Linked DNA regions of Homo sapiens: region 1 is linked to region 2. Evidence: fine-mapped expression QTL. A gene starts in region 2. The other region holds a variant in brackets. All regions are shown on one strand. Distances are between the middles of the regions.

Region 1 (12,697 bases), 24 kb before region 2:
AAATGAGATACCATCTCACACCAGTCAGAATGAATATTATTAAGAAGTCAAAAAATAACAGATGCTGGCAAGGTTGTGAAGAAAAGGGAACACTTATACTGCTGATGGGAGTATAAATTAGTTCACCCATTGTGAAAAGCAATGTGGCAATTCCTCAAAGAATTTAAAACAGAATTACCATTAGATCCAGCAATCCCATCACTGGGTAAATACCCAAAGGAATATAAATCATTCTACCACAAAGACACAAGCATATGTTCACTGCAGCACTATTCACAATAGGAAAGACATGAAATTCAACCTAAATGCCCATCAATGGTAGACTAAAGAAAATGTGATACATATACACCATGGAATACTATGCAGCCATAAAAAAGAACAAGACCATGTCCTTTGCAGCAACAGGCAACATGGATGAAGCTGGAGGGCCACTATCCTAAACAAACACAGAACAGAAAACCAAGTACTGCATGTTCTCACTTAAAAGTGGGAGCTAAAGAACGAGAACACATGGACACAAAGAGGCCAACCACAGACACTGGGGCCTACTTCAGGGTGGAGGGTGGGAGAAGGGAGAGGATCAGAAAAAATAAATGTCAGGCACTATGCTTATTACCTGGACGACAAAATATCTGTACACCAAACCCCTGTGACATATAGATTACCTATATAACAAACCAGCACATGTACCCCTGAACCTAAAATAAAGGTTTAAAAAAAAAAAACAGCTGATTCTTTTTTTTTTTTTTTTTTTGAGACAGGTTCTCACCACTGTCAGTGAGGCTGAAATGCAGTGGTGTGATCACAGCTCACTGTATCCTCGAAATCCTGGGCTCAAGCAATCCTCTGCTTCAGCCATCCAAGTAGCTAGGACTACAGGCACACACCAGGACGCTTGGCTAATTTCTACAGGCACATGCCACAGTTGGCTAATTTTTTTTTTTTTTTTTTTTTTTTTTCAGAGATGAGGTCTTACTATGTCACCCAGGCTGGTGTCAAACTCCTGCTCTAAAGCAATCCTCCTCCTGCCTTGGCCTCCCACGATATTGAGATTACAGGCATGAGCCACCGTACCTGGCATAAAAAGTTATTTTTGACTTCCTGAAAATGCTGCGCCTCTTGACTCCAGCAATAAATGAAGTCTTTACATTTCAAATCTGACTTTCCAAGGACTTAACCATCTCAATATAATGACAAATTTGCCCAGTTCATTAATACCAAAGTAGCAATGATGGGCAAAAGATCATTGGTACTTGTACTTATTGCTAAAAGATAATAGCTAGAATCCAAGGCTTTCAAAAACAGATTAACAACTTTCCCACTCCCTGGCATGGTCACATCCATTTAACATTATTTACTGGGTGCTCCACACTATAAGCACTATAGGCAAATAATCTTATTAAAAGGATCCAAATATTATAACCCTGAATGGAACAGTTGGATAAGACAACCCAGGTAATCATTTTCCATTGATTTGTCCTTACCCCTCAGTAACCTTTTTCCTGACACACCAGTAATAAATTCCTGTTGCTTTTGCTCAATGTTATCTTTGCCTCTTTCATACAATTTAACAGCTGGTTAGCCAAATGACCTAAAAACTGTACTATATATTGATTTCTTGCTCCAGCACTTATCCTCAGATGACATGAACACAGGTATACATATTGTCTATCACATACTCTGATACATATTTTTTACAGATGATAAGAGTACATCTTCTGTAAAAACAAAGTGAGACAAGTTTGGGAAGAAAATTCTTCCCAACAGAACACCTAAATCTCTCTCTACTCTCCTAAGTTTTCTCCACCCCTACTGCACAATCCCATACTTAAACAGCTTAACTGGTTTCCTCCAAATTGTACTCTCAACTTCCCCCCTTTATTTGAGACTCTGTCACCCAGACCGGAGTGCAGTACACGATCATGGTTCGTTCACTGCAGCCTGGACCTCCAGGGCTCAATCCACCCTCCTACCTCAGCCTCCCGAGTAACTGGGACTACCAGTACATGCCACCACGCCCAGCTAATTTTTTTGTATTTTTTGTAGAGACAGGGTTTCACCATGTTGCTCAGGCTGGTCTCAGACTCCTAAAGTGATCCACCTACCTCAGCCTCCAAAAGTGCTGGGATTACAGGTGTGAGCCACGATGCTGGCCTCAAGCCCCTTTTCTAAGCTCCCCTCTCCCAATTCATTATTCACCTCTCAACTGAAGCTTTTAAAAATGCACATCTGAAAAAAAAAAAGTGTACCTATCCCCCACTTAAAACCTTAGGACAAACACCAAAATTCCTAATTTGGATTACCAGGCCTTGCAAGATCTGGACCACGATTACTTGCACAGCCTTGTTTCATCTGCGCTTTTCCCCAGGCACTTTCTCTTCCAATACTACCAAGTCTCTCTGGGTTCCCACAATAGACCTTGCCTTCTCTGGCCCTAGTTCCTTCAACATGTTTCCTCTCTGAACTTCATTTTCCCCCTTAGGCTTTTCTTTTCCTAACTTTTACTTACCCTTCTAGTCTCTGCTTAAAGCTCACTTCTTCAGTGTGGCAGAGGCTGTTGCTTTGTATCAAAATCAATAGTTCACTTAGATTTATTTGGAATGACTACGGCAACAGAACAAAAGAAAAGTAAGTGCTTTGTGTTTAGTAAAAAGGTACTACATTTTAGTACCTGCACATAACAGTCTATAGGTCTATAAAGCTTAGAATTAAGAAAACTATACCTTGAGGAGTTTCCAGGATAAGAAAAAGTTAAAATTAACAAAGCAGAGATCAATATGAAACATAAACAATATGCCAGCAAAGGCTGAAGGAAAACGGGACTTAAGTAAGGCAACAGCAGTTTGGAGAATGGAAGATGGAGGAGGCTCTTTCAGAAGAATGAGATGACTTTTGCTATGCTAGTATGCCAAAGGATGTGGAAAAATAAAAAACCGTGTAGAGTAAGGAGATATATTTAACTGGAGCAGAAGACACTAGCAAAAAAGTACTGGAACTCTTACAGATAAAAGGGACCTTAAAGATTCTAAAACCCCCTAATTCCGAGATGAGAAAAAGGCGATCCAGGCCAGGCATGGTGGCTCACGCCTGTAATCTCAGCACTTTGGGAGGCCGAGGCAGGTGGATCACTTGAGGTCAGGAGTCTGAGACCAGCCTGGCCAACATGGCAAAACCCTATCTCTACTAAAAATACAAATATTAGCCAGGCATGGTGGTGCGTGCCTGTAGTGCCTGTAGTCCTAGCTACTTAGGAGGCAGAGGTATGAGAATCACTTGAACCCACCACTGCACTCCAGCCTGAACCCACCACGGCACTCCGACCTGGGCGACAGGGCGAGATCTTGTCTCAAATAAAAAAAAAAAAAAAAAAAAACAGATCCAAAAAGGCCAAACGAGTTTTACCCAGCGCTAATGAGTAGCAATGCTGGCAAAGGTCTTCTCATTCTTTTTCCTTAAGCACTCTGGGAAAGCACTGTACCAGGTACCCTTAAAGAATCTAAAAGAAATGTAAGTTTCCTTACCTTCAAAAAACTTAAAATGTTGCTGAAATGATATAACACATGAAAAAGAAAGAAAAATATGAAAACAGGATGTAAATTTTTCAAGTGCCAAATTATGCACTACAGGAATATATTAGGCATTTAGGAGCTGGGTTCCAACAACTAAAGGGAAGATCAGGAACAAAAACAAAAGGAACCAAAAGACAAACCAGTGATTGTTGAAGTGGTACTTAAAGGAAAATAATCTTGATGACTTGTGTTCAGAATGGCACAAAGGGAGAGGAAGGGAAGATAACGGGAGGAATAATAGTAAATTTTTTTTAAAAAGACCTAAAAAATACAGACTGCTGTTATACACTCATGCAGGTGGCAGATCAAGCAGCTCATGTTTGCAAAATTACTTCAAATTACAAGACCAGTTACAATATATAACTAACAAGCTGCACAAGTTCCAAGTGTAAGAACTTTACAAGGCCGGTATGACTCACTGATTTGTACCAACAAATCATTGATGGAGCTGTGCTTATAAAAACAAAAGCACAGAATGAAAGAAGTTTATTTTCCAAAGAATTGTGAACTTTGAGATTATCTCTTCTTTTTTTTTCTTTTAGAAGGAAGTTCTGGTTTGGTTTGAAGTCTCAAGTTACCAACGAACTTGCTCAAAAAACCACAAAACTACAGTGTCGAGAGATAAACTATTCATGAAGGTATCACCAGCAAAAGTTCTACTTGCCAACCAGAGCCAGTATATTTATAAGATCTCATTCACCATTTTATTCTAAGATACTTTACTGGCTTGGCTGCCTCCAGTTCCAACCGCAAGTACTTTACTAAAATATCTTTCAAGCCAGGAACAGTATCTTAAAGTCAATGCCACCCTTCATCATAACAGTATTATAACACAGAACCCTGAGATAATTACATGTAAAGATCCAAAATCACCAGCTGAATAATGAAAATTAGGTCAAATGATTTGTTAGATTTTAAAATGTTTTATAGAAAGCTTTAGGCTTCCATATGAAAAAAGCTAGTAATAGTTTGCATTCTCTATAATCTTACAAAAAAAAAAAAAAAACCCACAGACCAGAGATCAAAAATAGCTTTACACAAACAAAAGGAAAATTGTAGGTTTGCTGAGGGCATCAGCCACTTAATTTAACCCTATTTCATCAAGAGCGGGAAGCCACACTGCTGTTTTCACCAGTTACTAAGAAACAAGATAAAGGACAGATTGGGACAGAGAGTCTATAGCTGAAAGTATTATGTTGATGCAATTACTGAGAATTCCCAAAGTGTCACTAATAGACAAGAAAGAGCATCTAGGACTGCCTCTAAATGAGTCTACCTACAACAGAATCAGTGATTAAGTAAAGAAAAGACTTACTGGAGCTTGGGGGTTTTCCCCCCCTCTTCCCTACCCGCATCCTCCCATCCTGAACCCCCCTCCCCAAGTAGGAAAGAAAGCTCGCCCAGCATAAACACAGGCCATTGCTCACAGCTCGTCACCACAACAAACTGGAGGTTAGACCAACGCTCCTGGAGACGGAACTCCACGTCTTGGTTGCTAAGCACAAAAAGGGGACTCTTCCCCACAGACCTGTGAACAGTGTGGGCCTTACCAGAATTTTGGTTGTTTCTCCACCTTCCCCCTCCCTTTTGTTTTTTTAACGAAAGCTTTGAAAGTGGTGGCAGCAAAAGTTTCCCTTTGGGCCAGACCTCTAGATCTCCCTTGTACAGATATACATTAGGTGGGCTGGTCTCACGTAGTCTCCACCGTCATTACGAATTACAAGCCTAACGACTACAGAACATCAGCGGAGACGACAGAAAAGCTTCCACACCCACCCCACTGTCGTCCTCTCCAGGCACGGCTTCCTGGTCCCAAACAGCACAAATAACCCAAAACCATGGTGATAAGCGGAGCTGTGAAGTACACACGCACAAGCCACACACTGGGAACCTGCCACGACAGCCGGGGAAAAAACCGGCCGAGTGAGGAGACGCAAGGCGGTCCCCTGTCACTTAAGGACAACACGCCCAGGCGAGAAGTGGCAGGAGGCAGGGGGAGTTGCCCCGAAAACCAGCCCGGAGCCTCCCCACCTTCCTGGGAAGGCAATCCCCTCAGCGGCAGTGAGCGGCCGGGCCGCAAGACGCGGCGCCCGGTCCCAGGCAGGGGCCCTTTGAGGAAGGCGCCCCCGGCAGGCTGGGCGCTCCAGGAGAGCCGGCGGCCGGCCCGGCCCCGCCTCAGGGAGCTGAGGGGAAGTCGCTCCCCGCCGAGGACCCCTCCTGCCCGTCCCCACTCACCGCCGGTGTGTCTGGTTCTCAGCCGCGAGCTGGGGCTGCCGTGAGGAGGCGGCGGAGGAGACGAGATCTGGGGCCCCGCAGCCGGGTCATCATACCCCCCGCGCGAGCCGGCCCGGGCCCCGGCCCCCGCCCCCCGGAGCCGTCCCCGCGCCCGTCCCGCAGGGGGAGCCTCCTCAGCCTCCCTCCCGCTCCACCACCCAGCCCCTTCCCGCCGCCGCCGCCGCCGCCTCAGCCCCGCGC[G/T]CTCCCGCCTCGGCCTCCTGCTGCCGTCCGGGGCTACCGCCGGGCCCCTTGCTCCGCAGCCGCCGTTGTCGCCAGACCCGACGAACGGAATGCCGAGCGGCCGTCCCTCAACCCGGCCGGCCCCGCCTCGCCGGAACTATTCACCCGCCCCGCGCCATGACACCTACTGAGGCGGAAGTGCAGCTGAATGGACTCTCTAGGACGATCGCATAGTACTGATTGCAGTAGGAGTCGGTGGGCCTCGAGTAGGTGGGCCTCCGTAGGGAGCCAGCGTGGATCGAGTGCGGGGCCTGGACTTCCCGCCCCCTCCGCACTGCAGACTCTGCGGTGATTTAAAGGTGCCTGGCGGTGGTACGGGATCCAACTGTAAAATGTCATCCCAGCTAGTGTGACATCACCACAGTTTAGTGTGACACCCCCAGAGCTTGGGCAGTGTACGGGACGACAGTGCCTAGCAGAGGAGCTTCACTGCCGGTGAGGGATTACCTCAGGTTAGGCTTTAATGTTTCGTTGCCGTCTAGAGACGTTCTAGCAATGTGACATCTGTGTACCATATCTGGAAGTCTCCCTGTACGTCAAGAGCCCCTTAGGGGAGTCTCCCATTGCCGCCGTGGGAACCTGTGTTTACATTACGAGGAGAGAGAATAGCTGTACTCTGAACTCAAACGCTCAAAACATGCAGTGAGCGAATGCTAGCATAATTTTCTTGCCTCTACCAGAAGGAAGGCTGGGTATTTAGGAAACAGAACGCGTTGGGCACAACATTCTGAGAAAATGGACACAGAAAATTAGGTTATCCTAATAGAAAAGCAGTTGCATCTCCCAAAGTCAAGAGATTCTGTAGGACTTCCGATGTATCTCCTGCTGTGTAAAATATTCAGGTTCCTGAAGTGGGGGACATTTTTAGGGCAACTGTAATTTCTTCATTTTTTCCATCCCACAAGTGCTGGAGGCAGCAGTGATCTGAGCTCTAGAAAGTGACTGTCCGTCACCATCGGTATTTGCATATACTCTGTGAGGAGAAGGGCAGTTGTGGCTAAGACAAAATTCTACTATCAAGTTTTGTTTCTCAAATCTCACTCATTAACATCTTTGATTTCCTTGGATCCCCATAACACACACAGAAAACTATGATTTGTGTAAAATGCGCTGAAGTACCTTTTAAGGGAAGTCATTTGGCTTTCTCTCTGGCTTAACAACACGGGGAGCAGTTCCATTTTATCTGGAACAGGGAAGTTTATTTCCCTAGAGAACTAGGGTTACCAAAAATGTTCGATCCCACAAGGCAGTTTTGTTTGCATATTTTCACAGAAACTTCCTTCTACTACTTAAAGTCCTCACATTGGGCTGACCTGGGAAACATGAAGATAAAAAGAGTGGGTAAACATGCCTGCTTGATGAGCCAGAAAAAAAGGCAGAAACCTGTGGTCTGGGTAGAACAGATCCTGCTCAGAATGTAAGCTTCAAACATGTTTATCATGCCTTGGTTCAACCTAACTCTCTGACATGTTCCTAAACTCCTGCTCTCTCAAGTTATGTCCCTTTCCTCTTTTCAAATATCTCTCAGAATTCACCCTTTCGGGAACCTTTGCTGATTGACTCCTATTTTATTTGAATTCTGCATCATCATCTGATTACTTAAATTAACCTGTACCTTCTTTATTTATACTTGTTAACTTCTATTTTCATTGCTCTTAGGTCCTCAGTCTTTCTCACTATACGGAGAGCTTCTTAAAGTCTGTATTTTCTCCTCTTTAGTATCATTCACTCATTCATCCAGCAAACTGCTTGTGTGCCTGCTCTGTGCTATACACTCTTCTAGACACTGGGTCAGGTATGAATGAGACAGGTGAATAAAGCATGGTCTTTTCCCTCAGGGACCTTACAGTCTAATGAGGAAAAAACGTGTGCAGACATATATAAGATAAGTGAGAGAGTCGGAGAAGAACATCAGAAGTGATATTTGAGCATAGTAAGGTCAAAGAAGTTTCAAAGTTTAGTCATTTGTCCATTCAGTAACTATTTATAGAGCATCTTCTGTGTGCTAGGCACTATATAAGAAATTAAGGGGCTGGGTGTGGTGGCTCATGCCTGTAATCCCAGCACTTCGGGAGGCTGAGGCAGGTGAATCACCTGAGGTCAGGAGTTCGAGACCAGCCTGGCCAACATGGTGAAACCCCGTCTCTACTAAAAATACAAACATTAGCCAAGTGTAGTGGCGCATGCCTGTAATCCCAGCTACCCTGGAGGCTTAAGCAGAAGAACCGCTGGAACCCAGGAGAAGAAGGCTACCATGAGCCGAGATTGCACCATTGCACTCCAGCCTGGGCGACAGTGAGACTCTGTCTCAAAAAAAAAAAAAAGAAAGAAAGAAAGAAATAAAAAAAAAAGAAATTAAGGATACACAGAAGAAAAGGCATGGTCTGTGCCCTGAAGGAGCTTACAGTTAAGCAGAGAAGTTGCACGATTTGGAAGTAGTAAGGTAAATTGAGTCAGATTTTGAAAGGCAATGTAGAGCTGTTAGAAGTTTATTCGCACAGGTAGCCAGGCACAGTGGCTCATGCCTGTAATCCCAGCACTTTGGGAAGCCAAGGTGGCAGATCACTGGAGGTCAGGAGTTCAAGACCAGCCTGGCCAACACAGTGAAACCCCATCTCTACTACAAATACAAAAATTAGCCAGATATGGTGGCATATGCTTGTAATCCCAGCTACTCGGGAGGCTGAGGCAGGAGAATCGCTTGAATCCGGGAGGCAGAGGTTGCAGTGAGCCGAGATCGTGCCACTGCAGTCTAGGCTGGGCAAACAGAGCCAGACTCTGTCTCAAAAAAGAAGTTTATTCAGACAGGTAATGTGAGAGAGAACTAGTGATGGTGAAGGAAGAGGGCTAGCTGGAGTGGGTAAAGACTGGAGAAAGGGATCCTAATCAGAAAACTATGATGAGGGTTTGATTACACAGGAAAGAAGGCGAGAAGGGGCAGATATGTGAAATACATCCTCCTAAACCAAGTCAGAGCAACTGGAGAGGGAGGTGGAGCAGTTAGCAATCGGAAGCATTCAAGTTTCATTCAGGGTATGACATCCTTCTAGGGCCTACAGCCTAGATTCAGTGTTGCAGGCAAGAAGTCATTTGCCCAAGAGCGGCAGTGCTTAAGGCCAAATAGGAGAAGCTGATGAGAAGGCTGTGTCTTGAGAGAAGCTGAACCAAAAAGCTAGGCAAACTATTCAAACAAATAGTGAATCCTAGGGGCTAGGAAAAAAAAGAGAATTTAAATAGAAGCCAACAGGTTGTGAAACTGGGAAAACCAGATTAGAGTGAAGGTCTGCAGTAAACGATAAAAAGCAGAAAAGTCCCTTGAGCCAACAGGAGGAGAACCTCAATGATTTTTTAAAAATCCAGACCCCAGAATACTTTTTATTTGGAAATAATGTTAAACATACAGATATGTTGCAAGAGTGACAAAAAGAGGACCCAGATTATTAACATCTTGCCCCTTTTGCTTTATCATTTGCAGTTATAGATAGATAGAGTTATATTACACACATACATGCCTTTTTTTTTTTTTTTTTTTTTTTTTTTTTTAGACAGAGTCTCACTCTGTCACCTAGGCTGGAGTGCAGTGGCATGATCTCGGCTCACTGCAACCTCCACCTCCTGGGTTTAAGCGATTCTCCTGTCTCAGCCTCCCGAGTAGCTGGGATTACAGGTGCCCGCTGTCACACCTGACTAATTTTTTTGTATTTTAGTAGAGACGGGGTTTCACCGTGTTACCCAGGCTGGTCTTGAACTCCTGAACTCAGGCAATCCACCCACCTCAGCCTCCCAAAGTGCTAAGATTATAGGTGTGAGCCACCGTGCCCAGCCCACGTACATATTTTTTTTTCCAAGCAGTTAAAAGTAAATCGCATGCATCATCCTCCTTTACCACATAATACTTGAATATCCTAATAAGTACATTCTCTTATGTAAACAAAATACATACAATTAACAACTCCAGGAAATTTAACATTGCTGTAATACTTTACCATCCATGTTCCAAATGTTGTCAGTTGATCAAATAACATCATTCTTAGCATTTTTTTTATTTTCCAGCACAAGATCCAGTTTAGGATCATATATTACATTTAATTGTCATGTCTCTTTAGTGTTCTTTAATCTGGCACAGTTCCTCAGCTTTTCTTTGTCTTTAATATTTTTGAAGAATACAGGACTTTTTCTGGTAAGGGGTAATAAAATGTTCTTCATGGCTGGGCGTGGTGGCTCACGCCTGTAATCCCAGCACTTTGGGAGGCCAAGGTGGGTAGATTGCAAGGTCAGGAGCTCAAGACCAGCCTGGCCAAGATGGTGAAACCCCATCTCTACTAAAAATACAAAAATTAGCCAGGCGCGGTGGCAGGTGCCTGTAATCCCAGCTACTTGGGAGGCTGAGGCAGAGAATTGCTTGAACCCGGGAGGCGGAGGTTTCAGTGAGCCAAGATCATGCCACTGCACTCCAGCCTGGGCAACAGAGCAAGACTCTGTCCCCCCGACCAAAAAAAAAAGATCTGAGCATTAGGCCCACAGTGATTTATTACTGAATGCTTGTATGTGAATATCAGCCCTTCAGCCTCCCTGCTCATCCCTTTCCTCAGGTTGCAAGCCTTAGGTATTACCAAGATTTTTCTCTTAAGACTCCTTTTGAGTATCCTTAGCAGAGAAAGCTTGCATAGGGAAATTTGGCAGACACTGTCCGTTGCCTATTCAAATGAATAGTTAGGTTTAGCTAACTTGTGTAGCAAACAATCCCCATACCTCAGGGGCTTATGGAAAGGTCACTGCTAGCTGGTCCATGATGGCATGTGCTTATAGTCCCAGCTTCTCAGGAGGCTGAGGCAGGAGGATTGCTTGAGCCCAGGAGTTCAAATCCAGCCTGGGCAACATATTGAGACCCCCATCTCTAAGGTAGATAGATTAGATACATGGATGGATGGATGGATGGATAGATAGATAGATAGATAGATAGATAGATAGATAGATAGATAGATATTACTGATATTGGTGAGAGCCACTACTCCCATCTCTGAGAGAGGGAGAGAGAGAGAGAGAGAGAGAGAGAGAGATAGTATTTGATCTTCGAGAGAGCGGTTTTAGTGGCATAGTTTGGGCAGAAGCTGTGTGGTTCCTATATAGGATTACTCATAGTATGAGTGGTGACTGACAATCTGGGAAGAATGGCCTGGTCCAGCTGAATGGTAGAATCTATTCTGGTCAATACCCATATTCAGCTCTCAATATCCAAGGAATCTGCTTGGGTCCACATCAGCTACATCTGAGAAGTTATGAAATGAATCATTTTGACTACATTCTCTATCACTTCTCTTCTCACAGGTATAAACCAGGAAAAGTTGTTCTGGCCCCTCATCTGGTTTCATGAAGGACAATATCTAGCATGAGAGTGACAGGGGTTAGAATAATGGACATTTTGGGGACTGGGTCCTAGCAGAAATGATGGAATAATGGAACAGGAGTTTGGATGAATGGGCATATTATGGGATTAAAGAAGATTTGAATACAAGCTTTCCTAATAAATGAAAGGGGAGGTGAAACTAGAGCATGCTGATGGCTGCACAGCATTGTGAATGCACTAAATGCACTAACTGTCCACTTTAAAATGTTTAGTAATATGTCGATTTTACCTAAATAAAAAAAAGGAAGCAACATAGTGAGTCATCGTCTCTATAACAATTTTATTCAGATGTCTTGGAGGATAAACCTTTCTTTTTTTAATTAGCCAGGCGTGGTGGCACACACCTGTAGTCCCAGCTATTCAGGAGGGTAAGGTGGGAGGATTGCTTGACCACTAGAAGTTGAGGCTGCAGTGAGCTATGATCTTGTCACTACACTCCAGCCTGGGCAACAAAGCAAGACCCTGTCTCAAAAAAAAAAAAAAAGTGGGGTGGCAGGGAGGGAGGTTTTCAGGATTTAGAGACAAGGCACAATTACCCTTAATTTTCAAGGGTCAACCCAGAGACTATTGTGGGGAAAGAACAAATGCCTTGACTCCTTATATAACCCATGTTTATGACTCCTCAGACCCTCCTTCCTCCATAATCATTTCTAATGTCACCCTTTTCTACACATAATGATCTTACTCTTTCTCACTTTTCTCATATACCAACTGTTTATGTAGCAAAAGCAAGGAATAGTGCTTTTTCTCCCTTTCCTTGGGTCAGCATTTCTCATTATTATGCTTCCTCTGTTATGTAGTTTCTAACCTTTTCTTTTTTTAAAAAATCATCCTCCCCACTCTAAGATTCTCACCTTTTCTTTGACCAACTGTTACACAGAATTTAGCATCTGCATTCCATATGTCTTTCCCTATCATCAATTTCAAGCAATATCTAAAACCAAAATAAATGGTTTGGGAAGGCACACAGAGACCCACATGAAAAGGGCAATGGAGCAGAACAGGAACTTGAAATTTAATAATTGAATATTATTTGTGCTAAGTCATTTTGTACTTCCCACAAACTCAGAAATCAAAAAGCCCCAATGAAGTGTCCCCTGCCCAGCACAATTCCTTACACATGGTTGGTGCTATAACTGTTTTCATGAGTAAATTACTGAGCGCTTATTCGCAGTGCTCAAAGCATCAGGATCAGTTAACTATAGAA
Region 2 (10,299 bases):
AAGAAAACTGTCAGTCCTCAAGAAGTACTATCTACAAGGAGACCCAGAAAAACCACAATTAAGAGCAACGTTAAAGATATGTGTACAGGCCGGGCACTGTGGCTCACACCTGTAAGCCTACAATTTTAGGAGGCTGAGGCAGGAGGATTGCTTGAGCCCAGGAGTTCAAGACCAACCTGGGCAACCTGGCAAGACCCTGTCTCTACAAAAATAAACAAATAAGCATGTTGGTGCACGCCTATAGTTCCTGGTACACAGGAAGCTGACGCGGGAGGATCACTTGAGTCCGGGAGGTCCAGGCTGCAGTGAGCTGTGATCATGCCACTACCCTCCAGCCTGGGCAACAGAGTGAGACCCTGTCTCTTAAAAAAAAACAAAAAAAGTATACAGTATTGTATCTAACAGGTGATGGAGTTAGGGAACGTTAGGCTAAATCTTAAAGGATGGGCAAGGTTAACCTGGCAAGGAAAGGGTAGAAAGGGTATAGTGGAAAACATTTTAAGAGGGGTCAGTTTGCTGTTACTAAAGTAAAAAAGGAATTGATAAGAAATGATACCAGAGAGGCAAGCAAGGGCCATATAATAGAGCGTCTTATATGTACCGCTAAGAAGCTTGGACTTCATTGTGTAAGTGAAGGGGAGCCACTGAGTGTGAAGCAGGAAAATGGCTAATTCTAATCATAAGAATAATATGCTCAGAGCAGGGCTTTAAAAAGAAAAATATGGTAATAATATTATTTGACTGCCAGGATGAGAAGAAGCTGGAGTGGAAGTTTCAATTGAAGGGCCCAAATAGTACTTACAGAGAAAGAAATGGAGACATTAATTTGGGAAATGGTTATGGTAACAGATATGGGAGATGTTGTTTAATAGCTGTTCTCAGACTTTTTCTGAAGAAGTTTCAAATCCACAACCAGATTGTGAACGCCATAAAAAGAAGTATATATTATTTATATCCACTTTATTCCTGATTATGGTTCAAAATCTCACTCCTTGGGCACAAATGGAGCGGATTTTTCTTCTCTCTATATATATTCCCACTTCCACCTCCCCACAGGTCCTTCCCTACCAGACTGTGAGCCCTCCAAGTCAGAGACTATATTTTATTCATCTTTATATCCCCACTGCCTATTGGATACTTGGTACTTAGTGGGTAGAGGCTTATTACATATTTGCAAAATTAATTAAGGCTTACTATAGCATCCTCCTAGCCAGCTTTGCTTTTTTGAGAAAATTCTGCATTAAAATATTAAGAATGGTTAGGTCTTTATAAGTAGCTAAGCAATCCTGAGAGTAGAGGATATTTCTCAATCGATTTGGTAGTCACCCTGGAAGTTATATAATTTTTTCAATGCCTTTGTTTAGTCTCATTTTGAAACTCCTTTCAGAGTTGAGACATGTCCTTTTCAAATATTTATAATGGTGGCAAGTCTTTGTCCTTTTGTAGACTCACAAATTTGGAAACAACCAAAAAAGTAATTTAGAACCAAATCTATTACATTTATTTATTTTATAAAACAAAAATGTATTTTCATAAACTATTCCAAATGGCAACTCCAAGAAAGAGTCCTCAACAATGTTTTATACTATTTATAATCAGTACAACAAGCACAAACCTGTTTTTTCAGTATACTTAATTTAAAGCACAACGCTCACTTAAATATCTATGTTCTGATAAATTTCATTCATTCATATTGAATGCTTCTGTGTCAGGCATTAGTGTAGGCATTTGTGATACACCCATAATAAAACAGAGACTGCCATAGTGGAATTCACATTCTAGCAGGGGGAATCAGACAATAAAAAGTCCAATAAATACATAAATTATAGAATATATTGCAAGGTGATGAGTGCATATTGTCCCTCTTCTACTTAAAATCCTTCAATAGCTCTTGGTTGGGTTTAGGATCAAGTCCAAAATGGCTTAACAGCACTTCAGCCCCTCTTGCCTTTTCAGCCTCCTTGCCCACTGTGTGCCTGTCATACTGACTGCTGCTTCTCTGTTCCACAAACACACAAAGTCTCTTCCCATTTCCAGTGATGCTCTTAAGGAGTTTATGCTTGTGTGTGTGTGTGTGTGCACGCGTATGTGCATGGGCCAGAGGAAGTGCATGATAGACAACAAGTAAGCAATAGCATATTTAAAAATATATATAGTATATGAGTGCTATAAAAAAATGAAAAAAATGAATTGGTATGGATGATCAGGAGTTGGGAATGGGGATGGTGGGCAGGTTGCAGTTTTACTTATTTCATTCATTCATTCATTTATTGAGACAGGGTCTTGCTCTGTCATCCAGGCTGGAGTGCAATGGCACTTACATGGCTCACTGCAACCTTGACCTCCTACTGGACCCAGGCAATCCTCCTGTCTCAGTCCCCTGTGTAGCTGGGACCACAGGCACGCACCATCGTGCCCAACTGATTTTTAAATTTTTTGTAGAGACAGGGTCTTGCCATGTTGCCCAAGCTGGTCTCAAACGCCTGGGCTCAAATGACCCTCCCATCTTGGCCTCCCAAAGTGCTGGGATTATAGGCATGAACCACCACACCTAGCCAGGTTGCAATTTTAAATAAGGTGGTCAGTGTAGGAGAAAGTGAGAACTGCACAAAGATCTGAAAGATGTGAGAATCCTTAAAGAATCTAGTTCACTATCTACAGGTGACAGGAAACTGAAAGGAAACAACTCACCAATCTTTATGTTATGTTGTGGGTGTTTTCGAATGAGCTGGACAATCTGGTGGGCAGCTTCTTGTCGGGAAGGAAGAACCAGGGCTGGATTGCAATTGGTGTTGTCTAGGTATAAAGTATGGATCTGTTTCCCCAGTGTCAGGGCTGGCTCCTTTAGCATGGATGGTGTGTATCGAAAATCACCTGGAGGAATATGTACATGGGGGCAGAAGGTCAGAGACAAAAGAATAGAAGACAAGCCTCTCCTACCTCCAACAATAGACAGGCGTTTGCTTACTAGTCTGTGAAAAAACTATTATGTAGCCTGGCACTGAACTAGGCAGTATAGCTGCATGGTTTCTTTGTTGTAATGTCTCCATCCTACTCCTATTTTTCAATTACTCTTCACAAGGTTCGGACCCTTAAAGAGTGGGAAATCGGCCAGGCGCAGTGGCTCACACCTGTAATCCCAGCACTTTGGGGGGCCGAGCCAGGTGGATCACCTGAGGTCAGGAGTTCGAGACCAGCCTGGCCAACATGGTGAAACCCCGTCTCTACTAATAGTAAATACGAAAATTAGCTGGGCGTGGTGGCAGGCGCCTGTCATCCCAGCTACTTGGGAGGCTGAGGCAAGAGAATCACTTGAACCCAGAAGGCGGAGGTTGCAGTGAGCCACAATCACGCCACTGCACTCCAGCCTGGGTGACAAGAGTGAAACTCCGTCTCAAAAAGAAGAAGGAAAAAAAAACAGTGGGAAATCAGTTGAGATGGGGTCACTATGCTCATATGTGATGAAGTTAGAAGGCCTCCAGCGCCTCCAGACTTCTATTGAGTTAAGGCTGCTCAAGAAAAGTCTGCCAGGTGTGGTGGCTTGTGCCAATAATCCTAGCTACTGTGGAGGCTGAAGCGGGAGGATTGCTTGAGGTCAGGAGTTTGAGACCAGCCTCGGCAACACTGCGAGGCCCCAGTCTATACATTAAAAAAAAAAAAAAAAAAAAAAAAAAAAAACATCTAGTCTGGAGAAGTCACTGGGATTCCTTGAGAGGCCCACCTGTGTAGAGGATGGTTCCAAAATATCCTTCAAAGAGAAACATGACAGAACCAGGACAGTGATTGGCATCGAGGAGGGTTACGGTCATGGTCTCTTGTCCAATTTCATCTAGGGGTAATACATGGCTCTCACCAACCTCCAGGGCTTGGATCCATTGCTTAGATACCTGAGAAAACAGTTAGTCATCCCAGTGACCACTGACTCCTCTCCGTTACCTCCCCGGGTCAGGGACTATCCCTTACATGAATCAGGAAAGCTGACCAAATCCTGAGCCACCGGGAGCAGAAGCTGTAATGGGGATTCCCAAGCAATCTGCCCTTCCTCCTTCCACTTCCCATCCCACCCTTTGTACAATTTAAGAGTTCAGCTGGCCGGGCGTGGTGGCTCACGCCTGTAATCCCAGCACTTTGGGAGGCTGAGGCGGGTGGATCACGAGGTCAGGAGATCGAGACCATCCTGGCTAACACGGTGAAACCCCGTCTCTACTAAAAAATACAAAAAAAATTAGCCAGGCGTGGTGGCGGGCGCCTGTAGTCCCAGCTACTCGGGAGGCTGAGGCAGGAGAATGGCGTGAACCCGGGAGGCGGAGCTTGCAGTGAGCCGAGTTTGCGCCACTGCACTCCAGCCTGGGCGACAGAGCGAGACTCCATCTCAAAAAAAAAAAAAGAGTTCAGCAAACAGTCTAGTCAGCAATTCCCAAACTTACTCCTGATCTTAATCTCTTGGAGACTTAAGGGTGGGGTGGGGAGAGAGCTGGAGAACCACCCAGCACATTAGGTGGATTCTTAAGATGAGGCAAGTTTAGGCGGGGCGTGGTGGCTCACGCTTGTAATCCCAGCACTTGGGGAGGCTGAGGCGGGCGGATCACTTAAGGTCAGGAGTTAGAGAACAGCCTGGCCAACATGGTGAAACCCCGTCTCCACAAAAAATACAAAAAATTAGCTGGGCGTGGTGGCGTGCGCCTGTAATCTCAGCTACTCAGGAGGCCGAGACAGGAGAATCGCTTGAACCCGGGAGGCGGAGGCTGCAGTGAGCCGAGATTGCGCCACTGCACTCCAGCCTGGGCAACAGAGCGAGACTCCGTCTCAAAAAAAAAAAAAAAAAAAAAAAAAAAAGGCAAGTTTGGGAAACATCGGCCTAGCTTACTTATAAAGGTAGGAATAGTTTCCTTGGCTGGATTAAAATATCTCCTCAACTTATGGCTAACTATCTCAAGTTGGTCACTTCGAAAACACGTTCCTATTCTGGGTTAAAGATGCATTTTTGGGTTCAAACAACTTCCAAATCAGTTTTCGTGGCCCCCATTCTATGACTCCAAGAATGACAGGTTGAAGTCCCAACCCAGATGCCTGGACCAGCTCTCGGAGACCGACTCCAGCCCCATACCTGTAGGTGACGATGCAAGAGGTGGGCTGTAATTGGGGAGCAGTAGAGGGGCCGGGCCCAGGTGCTAGACAGGCCCACGGTGTGGTCCGAGTGCATGTGAGACAAGAAGAAGAGACGTGCGGTGCCAGCCCGGCGCAGGCTCCAGAAGTCCACTGCGATGGGCGTATGGGGGATCAGGACCCCATTCATGGTGGTAGGGTTGGAGTCACCAGTGGGATCTTCTCCACGGGGGCAGGGCTCCTGCGTGAGGCTTCCACAACGGCGTCCCGATAAAAGTCATGCTGGGGCAAGAACAGGGCCAGAGACCCTAAGGGAAAGAGCCCAGCAGAGCAATAAGTTACCAGAGTGGGCAGAAAAAGGAAGTCACCCTGCCCGCTGGAGCCCAAATCGCGGAGGGCGCTGGACACTCCCAACCGCGCGGGAGCGGAGGCCGAGCCGGGCACTCAAAGCGCGCGCTGCAGGGAGGAGACAGGCCAAAGTAGCCGATTTCCGATTGCCCGCCGCAGCTCCACCAGAGGGAGCCGCGCAGCTGCGCCTGGAGAGTGAGAGGTTGGGGGAAGGGCATCCTAAGGTCGGAGTCGGGACTACGCTTAGCGCTCGCTCGCGGGGAGACCGGCAGCGGTCTTCTGTTTGGTCTCTTGACAAGGGGGCGGGACTTCCGCAGAAAGCAAGATTGGGCCTATCCGCGATGAGAACGGCGTGGAGGGGGAATTAAGGCTGGAACTGGAGAGGGAGGGGTCTGCGGTCAGTCGGACGCGGCGCTGGAAATCCGGCGGAGGACCTAGAAGTAGCGGGAGCGATCTGTGGGCGGGGCGAACGGCCTGCCGGCCGACGGTAGGGCCTGAAGAGCCTAGGGTGGGGCTCGCGGTGTCGCGGAGGGCGTGGAAGTGTGTCAGGGCCAGCGTGCCGGCCCTACGGAAGCCGAGCCTGAGGCGAGATCTCGCCTTTTGTATTTTCACTGACTCATATTTCCTTTACTCAGGCTCCCACATCAGGACGAGAAGGAGCCCTCGAGTTACCGTGGGAGCTGTGGGAGCTGCCCTGTGACTCTTAGGAAGATGCCGTACCTTGGCTCCGAGGACGTGGTGAAGGAGCTGAAGAAGGCTCTGTGCAATCCTCACATTCAAGCTGATAGGCTGCGCTACCGGAATGTCATCCAGCGAGTGATTAGGTATCACCTACCTCCCTTCGCGTGCTAACTGCTCCCTTTGCAATCCCCATCAGGGCTCACTAGCCCCAGTCTCTCTGAAAGGGTGAATTAGCTTTCACACGTGGCAGTTATATGGTTCGGTCTTCGTCCTGCTGCTTTGGAGTACCATGTCAGTCTCCCCTCTGCAGCATCTTTTACTCAGCTGGGTAGTTTCCTCCATATCACGGGCTTGAGCAATTACTGGTGACTCTTGGATCTATAATATAGCTAGTACAGACTTCCTTTTTTAGCTTCAGACCCACGTATCCCACTGCCTGCTTGGCATTTCCACGTGCGTGGTTTATCAAAAGTATGTCCGAAATAGCCCGGACATTCTTCCGTCTTCCTCAAACCTGTTCAGCTTACATTTGTGTTGATGAATGCCACCAGCAGCCGACTATGCGTGGGAGCCAACCTTGAGGACACCTGATCTCTCACTTCTTATGTCAGATGGTTTGAATTCATAATTCTAAATATCCATCCTCTCTTGTTTATTAGCATTGTTGTTCTGGTCCAGGCCTTCATCAATAAAGCAATTGCAGCAGCTTACTAGTAGGCCACTTTGCCTCATTTGAGACAGAATTTTTCCATTATACATACCTGAACACATAACTCTTGCCTACAGCTATGGTTCACAAACTTTACTATGCATAAAAATCCCTTGGGGTGCTTTTTGTCATCCAGTCCAGGGACTGATTCTGATTTCAGTAGGGTGGGAGGGAACCCAGGAATCTGTATTTTTAATAAACATTTCAGTTGGTTCCAGTAGGAGACCAGTCTGAGAAACAATAAAGTCCAAACTTATCACAGCACCCAAGGAACAAGCTGTTAATTCAACTACCTACAGACTCTTAAAAAAATGTGTGCTGCTCCTGCTCATGTCTACTTACCTCATAGCATGTATCTTTACCTTGCTATTACATCTGCCTAGTGAGCTCCTGCTCATTCAGCTAAAGTATTACTTCCTCTGTGAAGAAACATTTTCTGACTTCCTGCCAGTGTCAGACCTCTGAATCCCCTCTACACCTTGTACAATACTTCTGTTTAAGTACTTATCTATCATACTGTAATTAACGGTATTCTCATCTGGCTCATTAATAGATTTGAAGTTCCTAGAGGTTTGAGACCACACCTTCTTCAAGATTATGTCCCAAGAGCATGTCCCTGGATGTAAAAGTTGAATTTCACCAAAGTACTAGGGATTCAATAAGTGTTTGTTGAGGCTGGGTGCGGTGGCTCACGCTGGTAATCCCAGCACTTTGGGAGGCCAAGGCGGGTGGATCACCTGCAGTCAGGAGTTCGAGACCAGCCTGGCCAACATGGAGAAACCCCGTCTCTACTAAAAATACAAAAATTAGCTGGGCGTGGTGGCACGCACCTGTAGTCCCAGCTACTCGGGAGGCTGAGGCAGGAGAATCGCTTGAACCTGGGAAGCGGAGCTTATAATGAGCCGAGATTGTGCCACTGCACTCTAGCCTGGGTAACAGAGCAAGACTCTGTCTCAAAAATAATAATAAGTGTTTGTTGAATGAATAGAAGAATAATGTTTATTGTAGGCCTATGGTATGAAGTACTGTGTGATATAATAGACAAGGTAATCCTGGCTGCTACCCTCTAAGAGATCACAATCTAGTTGGGTAATCAGGAGATATGTAAGTAAAACTCCCTCCATTGTAAGTTGGGGATTTTGCATTTTACTTCCTTCTGTCATGTGCGTTGTTCAGGTACATGACTCAAGGCTTGGACATGTCTGGTGTTTTTATGGAAATGGTGAAGGCCAGTGCCACTGTAGATATTGTCCAGAAGAAGTTGGTTTATCTGTACATGTGCACATATGCTCCCCTGAAACCAGATCTGGCTCTCCTGGCCATCAATACGCTGTGCAAAGACTGCTCAGACCCCAATCCAATGGTGCGAGGGCTGGCGTTACGGAGCATGTGTAGCCTCAGGTGAGTACCCTCTTCTCTGTCTGGTCCTAAATGGCTGATGAATTCAAGTGATCACAGGGTAGGTTTTTAAAGAGGATAATTTATTTGAGCTCCTTAATACTGGGGAAAACATTATTGTACCCTGAACTCAGATTTTCAGCCACTGCTTTGGCTTAATAACCTGTATCATATAATTTTATTAGAGGGAGTTTTTGATTCTCACTCTAAGTAAAATAGTCCTCAGTTTTGGTTAAATATCTCTAAACAATTATGTGTATATCTTTTTTTGCTGCCTGTGCATCATTATTCCAAATGAAAAGTCAAATTAGGCTGGGCACAGTGGCTCATGCCTGTAGACCCAGCACTTTGGGAGGCTTAGACAGGAAGATTGCTTGAGCCCAGGAATTTGAGACCAGCTGGGCAAGATGGTGAGAGCCTATATCTACAAAAAATTAAATGGGCATGGTGACACGCACCTGTAGTCTCAGCTACTAGGAAGGCTGAGGCAGGAGGATGGCTTGGGCCCGGGAATTCAAGGCAGCAGTGAGCTATGATCGGGCCACTGGGTGACAAAGTGAGACCCCATCTTGAAAAAAACAAGAAAAAAACAGAAAAGTCAAATTATGGCTTTTTAAGCTTGATAGAGGCTTTCTGCAATTCTTCATGATCTGATGGGTGCAGCATCTACTAAACCATCTGTTAGGTGAACAGGGGCTGAGGTATGTCAAAATTAGTATTTCAGAATCTGGCTAACTCCAGGATGTGTTGCTTAGGATGCCTGGTGTGCAGGAGTATATACAACAGCCTATTCTCAATGGTCTGCGGGATAAGGCTTCATATGTCAGGAGAGTGGCAGTCCTTGGATGTGCCAAGATGCATAATCTTCATGGAGACTCTGAAGTAGGTAAGTTCAGTGTAATCCATCATGGTCAATGTGCCTCCATTATGTATAACTTTAAAAAAGATTGTGTGGCTTTGGTAGAAAATAATAATGTGGCCCCAGTTCTGTACATATCTCTTTAAGTAGGATGCAGGGCTTGGTATCTTCTGGAGATGAGAAGTCCTTTCTCTGGGGCCCCAATGAGATCCTTTGTATTAGCTGCTTAGAACAGTCTGGACATGGCAGTTTTTTTTTTGCCTTGCACTTTAGTGTGGCCTTTGTCATTTTTGTAGCAGAGAAGTTCAACTTTGTCTACCTGGAGCTATTACTCTGGCTACATCCTTGTTACTCTGAAGCTTTCCTTCTTTATCTAAGAACTTTGTTCTTTTTTATAGATGGTGCCCTGGTAAATGAATTATACAGTTTGCTGCGTGACCAGGATCCAATTGTAGTTGTGAACTGCTTGAGGTCTCTAGAGGAAATTCTGAAACAGGAAGGAGGCGTTGTCATCAATAAGCCCATTGCTCACCATCTCTTAAATCGGTTTGGATGCCTCAGCACTCTTTTTATTATGAGATCTGCTACCTTGTGGGATCTTGTTGATGTATTAAAGTATTGAACAACTTATGTGGGGTAGAAAAGAAAGTTAACCATTATTATTATTATTATTTGAGACGGAGTTTTGCTCTTGTTGTCTAAGCTGGAGTGCAATGGCGCTATCTCGGCTTACCGCAACCTCCGCCTCCTGGGTTCAAGCAATTCTCCTGCCTCAGCCTCCCGAGTAGCTGGGATTATAGGCATGCGCCACCATGCCCGGCTAATTTTGTATTTTTAGTAGAGACAGGGTTTCACCATGTTGGTCAGGCTGGTCCCAAACTTCTGACCTCAGGTGATCCGCCCGCCTCAGCCTCCCAAAGTGCTGGGATTACAGACGTGAGCCACTGCGCCCGGCCAGTTAACCACTATTAACTCCCTCACATTCCACTGAGAGAATTTCTTTTATTTGCCTTACTTTCCCTTATTGATATAGGGAAATAGAAATATACTGTGGGAATAGGTTCTACCCTTCTCTAGTCATGTCCCCCAAACTAAGCCATTTATAGTGTCTTAAAATGTAAGGAACCTGGACCCAGTGTATGCTGATCATGTCTTTGGTCTTAGAGGAGTGTGCATTTGTATTAACAACTCATCTTGG

Evidence for each region.
Region 1: its variant is fine-mapped to the expression of DCLRE1B in whole blood (INTERVAL, PIP 0.94).

Annotation. Positions count from the first base shown.
Region 1 is chr1:113,923,047-113,935,743 of GRCh38, reverse strand. It overlaps HIPK1 (homeodomain interacting protein kinase 1), which reads right to left and starts at 6,420. Exons shown (of 16, transcript NM_198268.3): 1 at 6,212-6,420. It overlaps HIPK1-AS1 (HIPK1 antisense RNA 1), which reads left to right and starts at 6,219. Exons shown (of 3, transcript NR_110726.1): 1 at 6,219-6,382; 2 at 7,356-7,500; 3 at 11,412-11,743. RefSeq lists silencers at 5,690-5,999, 6,020-6,069 and an enhancer at 6,190-6,509. The variant G/T (reference allele first, on the strand shown) is at 6,045.
Region 2 is chr1:113,900,584-113,910,882 of GRCh38, reverse strand. DCLRE1B (DNA cross-link repair 1B) reads right to left here and starts at 5,557. Exons shown (of 4, transcript NM_022836.4): 1 at 5,108-5,557; 2 at 3,722-3,887; 3 at 2,692-2,874. The coding sequence starts at 5,296. AP4B1 (adaptor related protein complex 4 subunit beta 1) reads left to right here and starts at 6,084. Exons shown (of 10, transcript NM_001253852.3): 1 at 6,084-6,278; 2 at 8,021-8,245; 3 at 8,998-9,128; 4 at 9,500-9,647. The coding sequence starts at 6,166. It overlaps AP4B1-AS1 (AP4B1 antisense RNA 1), which reads right to left. Exons shown (of 5, transcript NR_125965.1): 5 at 9,646-10,299. RefSeq lists enhancers at 5,669-5,718, 5,749-6,308, 6,389-6,448.